Homo sapiens: one gene and its partner. The protein of the gene in region 1 purifies or fractionates together with the protein of each later gene. This does not show direct contact. Each region holds a gene or a part of one and is shown on either strand. Other genes may lie near its edges.

Region 1 (3,500 bases):
AAAAAAAAACAAAAAATTTTGATTCAAACCTTGCAACATATACAAAAATTAACTCAAAATGGATCACATATCTAAGTATAAAACTATAAAACTTCTAGAAGGAAACACAGGACAAACCCTGGTTTACGAAATGTTTCCTTAGATACAACACCAAAAGCACAATCCATATAAGAAAAATTGATACACTGGATGAAATTCAAAATCTCTTTTCCTTACAAGGCACTGTTTAGAGAATAAAGAGACAGGCCACCCATTGGGAAAAATATTTGTAAATCACATATCTGATAAAGGAATATGTAAAAAACCTATAAAACACTCTCAAAAGTCAATAATTATAAAACAACCCAATAAAACAATGGACAAAAGATTGAGCACATCCTTCTTCGAAGAAGATATGGATGGCAAATAAGCACCTGAAAATATGCTTATCATTAGTCATCACGGAAATGCAAATTAAAGCCACAATGAGATACCATTGAGATATGAGATACAATGACATATGTATCCATTAGAATGGCTTAAATTAAAAAGACTGTCAGTAACAAACAATGGTGATGATATGAAGGAAGAGAAATTCTCATACACTGCTAGTAGAAATGCAGAATGGCACGAGTACTTTGGAAAACAGTTTTGTACTTTTCTGAACGTTAAACTAAATCTGCCCTATGAACCAGCTATTCCATCCCTAGGTTATTTGCGGAAGTGAAATGAAAGCATATGTTTGTGCAAAAACTTATATACAGATGTTCACAGCAGTTTTTTTGTAATAATCAAAACTAGAAGCAACTCAAATGTTTATAACAGGTGAGTGAACAAATCAATGTGACATATCCATACAATGAAATACTACTCAGCAATAAAAAGGAATGAACTATGGATACATATAACAACATAAATGAATTTCAAAACAATTATACTAAGTGAAAGAAGCCAGAATACACATACACAAAAGTACATCTCATGATGTGATACTATTATATATAATTCTAGAAAATGAAACTAATCCATTGGAACACAAAACATAATTTAAAATTTTAAAAGAAAAAAAAATCGTTGACTGTTTAAGAGCAAGAAGGATAAAGAGCAGTATTCTAAATTGGTCGAGTACTAACCTTGGCCACTGCACATCGAACAGCCATTGACCTATCAGTCAAGAGAGACCTGGCATTCTTGTAAATATCACGATGGGAGGAAGCTGCTGCACCACCCAGTCCACTTAGAACTTTCTGTAGACTCATTAAGATTTCACTTCGCCCTTGAGACTAGACATGTATACAAAACAAAACTATTTTGTAAAATAAATTCCATATTTAAACAAGAACACACCAAGACAAAAGTTCTTTGGGTCTAATGGTCTTACCTCCAAATTATAAACGGTAAATAATGAAAAGTACAATAAAATTAAGTATTCTAGAAAGTACCTGGCAAGTAAGAATAGTCAATTAAATAATATCTTTCTAAAAAATTAGGTTTTAAGTAAATATATTCCAATATTTCTATGAATTACTGAAGTACATACAATATAATGAAAACATGAAGAGATTCAAAAGCTTCAATATCATATCTCAATATATAAAATATTTCAGAACGTAAAATATTAAGTAAAAAAGTTGAGAAATAATATATAAATGATCCAAAAAAGGAAGCAGAAAACATCCAACACATTTAAAAAAACATGTCAGAAATACAGCAAACCTTCATCTTCTTGTGACTAACTCAAACTGTTATATCCATATTCTCATAGTGCTTATTGTTATTTCTGATAGTATACTCATCACAGTGTATCACAATGCTTATTCACACTTAGCTCTCTTCCACTAAACTGTAAGTTCTTTGAGGTCAGGACCATCTTTGTATGTTTAATGCCTGACAAATAATAAGTCCTCAATTCTTTTTTAATGAATGAATAGACAAATAGTTCCCAGAAAAGGTATCCAATTCTAATCCAATGACTGGTATCACTGAACAGGGAAATAATTTAGACACAAAACACAAAGGGACAGGAAAAAGGTGATGTGACAAAGGAGACAGAGATGGGAGAGATGCATCTACAAGCCAGGGAAGATCAAAGATTTCCAGCAACCACTAGAAGGTAAGAAGGAAAGGAAACATTCTTCCCTAGATCCTTCAGTGGAAACATGGCCTTGCTGACACTTTATCGCAGACCTCCAGCTTCCAGAACTGTGAGACAATAAATTGTTGTTGTTTTAAGCCACCCAGTCTAAGGTAATTTATTACAGTAACCAGGAAATTAACACATTAGCTATGGCACCAAAAAAAAGAAAAAAAAAAAAGCCAATCCAAAAGTACCATAGGACTAAATAAAAAATAACAAGTAAACCTATTCCTTGTCAAAGAAAAGCATTCTTTCCCTTCCCCCTGATATACATTAAAAGAAGGGACAAGTAATAATTTGTAATTACCTCCTTGCTAAGCAATATGAGACCACAGTGACAGAAAAAGAAACAAACATATTTTAGCTGACATCTAACTCTTGCCACAAGCAAATATTCAAATAATATTGGTTGTAAAACTTACCTCTGCACTTTTCAGAGATTTCAATAGATTATTTACCGTTTCTGGAAATGCGCTGCCCAACATTCTCCCCATTTTTTCATAAAATGCTCCGACACAAGCCACCGCAGCCCTGTAAGAAGTGACAACTTCACTAGTCATTGTCCAGGTTAATGATACAATTATACTTTTCTCATTTTTAGAAATCAATTTGCATTTGTCTAGGACACTTTTGGCTATAATCCTTAATTTCAACTATCAAAAACAATTTATGCTTCATAACTGCAACAAATACTATACTCTATTTACACTGTATTCTTGTTAAATACTATAGTTAAATTGTATTCTTGTTAGGAATACAAAAGAATCTATATATGTACATAATAAATCATACCCATTCTTTGGGAAGAAATCCAAGCTTTTCTTTTTTTTTTTAGGGGGAGACAAAGTCTCACTCTGTCACCCACGCTGGAGTGCAGTGGTGTGGTCCTGGTTCACTGCAACCTCTGCCTCCTGGGTTCAAGCCATTCTCCTGCCTCAGCTTCCTGAGTAGCTGGGATTACAGGTGCATGCCACCATTCCCAGCTCATTTTGTATATTCAGTAGAGATGGGGTTTCACCACGTTAGCCAGGCTGATCTCGAACTCCTGACCTCAGGTGATCCGCCTGCCTCGGCCTCCCAAAGTGTTGGGATTACAGGCGTGAGCCACAGCGCCCGGCCCCTAAGCTTTGCTTCTATGAAGACTTTCCAAATTATGTCAAGCCTCAACAATCCCTCTCTTCTTTCATTATATGTAACACTTAATGTCAATCACTGATTTTGACAAAATTATATCATTTACTGTGTTGTAACTTGACCATTTTATATGTCTCTATCTTGTCCTGCCAGTGGAAATGTAAACTCCAGAAACGGAATATAGCTCACATATTTGCATTGCTCACAGTGTCTACCTCTTAATTTACAAATAATACTATACTATTAGTAA
Region 2 (2,575 bases), on another chromosome or scaffold:
GTTAATATATTGCAATGATTTTCCAAATAACGGCATGGTTTAGCAGATCTTCCCTGGCTGCACTGTTTATTGAATTTTAGTTTAAAATAAAACTTAGTGTAACTACATTCGCAGCAACTGAAAATGGTCTGAAAATTTAATTTTTTCATACTTGAGGGGATAGAATCAATACCATAGTACAATTAGGAAGGTTTCAATTGACCTCTGGGTGACCTCTGGGTGAACCAATCACACAGACACCAAATACACTCCAGAAAGACTCAGATATGAGAACTATAAGATTCCGGGTCTTCCATCAAAGACTGCTTTGCAACAGAAAAATGAAAATAGTTGAAATACATGGGCAATATGCTGCCTCAAATTATTCTTGTAAGTAGGCAGTGTCAATATAAATCAATATTAAGATGGGATAAATCTAAAAGTTTAAACGTCTGCCTCAAAAAAACAAATATCTCCCCCACCCCCCAAAATCATAAAAAACCAAAACCCTAATTAAAAATATTTTTTTGAACTAGAGATAGGATCTTGCTATGTTGTCTAGGCTAGTCTCAAACTCCTGGCCTCAAGTGATACTCCCACCTTGGCTTCCCAAAGTGCTGGGATTACAGGTGTGGGCCACCACGCCAGCCAAAACCCTCATTTAAACAGGTTTTAAATACTTTACTTTGAGAAAAGATATATAATCTCTCTACCCACATAACAGAAAAGACATGATTATTCCAAATTTAGGTGCTGAATCCATCATATTTATAGCAATCCCATTTTGTGAGCATCTTGGCTGCTGAATCCCGTGTATTCATAAAGACAGTAGGAGTTATAGTCACAATTTTTTTTTATTTTTAGTTTTTTATGGCACTTCCAGTTTTTGGAACATATTACTTTAACTTGTTCAGCTATTTCAAAATGGCAGGGGAACTTTACCTTGGCAAAAACGCAACAGTGGCCAAAGTGCAAAGTATTTCTACTTTCCACTTTGTAGTGGTAGAACCATGAGCAGTGGTTCTACCACTAACAGCTCCACTTCTTATGAACAAGGAATAGGCACAATTAGAGAAAGAGCTGAAAGAGAAGAGGCAGAGAATGAAAGAGGAATTAAAAGAGAAAAATCAGGGGAAAGTATAAGAAAGATGGTAACGTAAACATAAAATTTAACAAGGATAAAAACATAAAAGAGAGAAGGGGAGGGAAGAAAGTGATGTCCAAGAAAAAGGAAGAAAAATGGTCAAAGATCTCTCTTACAATATAGTAATAAATTTATCAAACAACTTGAATTACCCTGTCATTAAAATCAACTCCACACTCAAATTATGCATTTTTTCCTCTAAAGAATTAGTAACTCATTGATCATCATCTCTGTTTAGAAATAAGGAAACCGCTTTGAAAAGTCAACATGCCTAGAGTTAAATAAGAAGTAGCATCTCTGTCCATCATTGCCTCAGAATTAGTCGAGATGACCAAGAATATTCATATAGAACTTGCCACATGTTCTTTTAAATAGCCAACACTGTTAGAGCATTAGAAAGTATTGGATTTGTAAGACATTTAACTTCCTCTGAAATGGTCTGTATATAAATCAAGATACAAAGATATCATCTCTCTTTCTGAATCTATAAACACTTTTCATTCAAATGAAAGCACTATTCTACTTTCCAGAGATACAAAAACTTTAATTCAAGTGATCATGAAGTATTAAAGACTTTTCCCACTTTATATAAATTGGTAAAATACTATGTGGCATGAACTCCCATTCTTCTCATGAATGACAATTTTTTTAAAATAAAAATTCCCTCTAATAATGTAGATAAATACAACCCAGGAACACTAAGCATAGTAAAATGTGATGCTTTATACAAGATTAGCTTATCTGCCAAAATGCCAAACCTAAGTGGAAATCTAAGGAACATACCTGGCTGCTGGCAATGCTTTCAGAGATCATTTTTGTCTACATCTGTGGTAGTTTTCTCTGAAAAACTGTAATCCACAATATTCTGAGCCTGTACACTAACCCATTCCAAGGGTGGCACAGTTAGGGACTCCTGTAAGTGTTCTGCCTTGGCTAGACAGACTTCACCTACAGCAGTCTCTTGAAAACTTGGTTGCCCATCTGAATTATTCTGTATTTGGGGAGAAAATATTAGTCATTTTAAAATAACTACACTGCCCTTCATTGACACAAATGTAATAATGACCACCTCATTAATAAAGAATATACTTTTGAGTTGTTTTCTAACACTGTTCCATAACTTATGCTAATTCATCCTTAACTGTTTCTCAACTGATCCTTTGGCCCAATGGTTACCTGGGACTAGTGGTACCAAATTGTGACAATAAAACAAAATGCTCTTTAAAATTATACTGAGAAAGGACAAATAATCTAGTTGTTACTGGCCTGCTGTAGAAATAATTTAATTGAATATTATTCTCCAGAATAAAATATCTACACTAAATTGTTCATCTCTTTCTTCTGATGATACATACAAATTTAAGGAATATAGCAAGAGTTGAATCGATAACCATATAATGGAAAAAACAAGAAACAAGAAAGATGTTAGCTGTTAAGTGAATAAAATTAAAA

What was found. Proteins that work in one complex are often made in the same cells at the same time.
Region 2: the proteins of HEATR5B (region 1) and MON2 purify together in Homo sapiens (affinity purification with mass spectrometry, with the first as the bait; one study listed by BioGRID). This does not show direct contact.

What each region holds. Positions count from the first base shown.
Region 1 is NC_000002.12:37,074,373-37,077,872, forward strand, and holds part of HEATR5B (HEAT repeat-containing protein 5B), read right to left. Parts: intron 2,648-3,500; coding exon 2,539-2,647; intron 1,263-2,538; coding exon 1,113-1,262; intron 1-1,112.
Region 2 is NC_000012.12:62,595,826-62,598,400, reverse strand, and holds part of MON2 (protein MON2 homolog), read right to left. Parts: 3' UTR 1-2,575. UniProt on the Homo sapiens protein: Plays a role in regulating membrane trafficking of cargo proteins. Together with ATP9A and DOP1B, regulates SNX3 retromer-mediated endosomal sorting of WLS away from lysosomal degradation.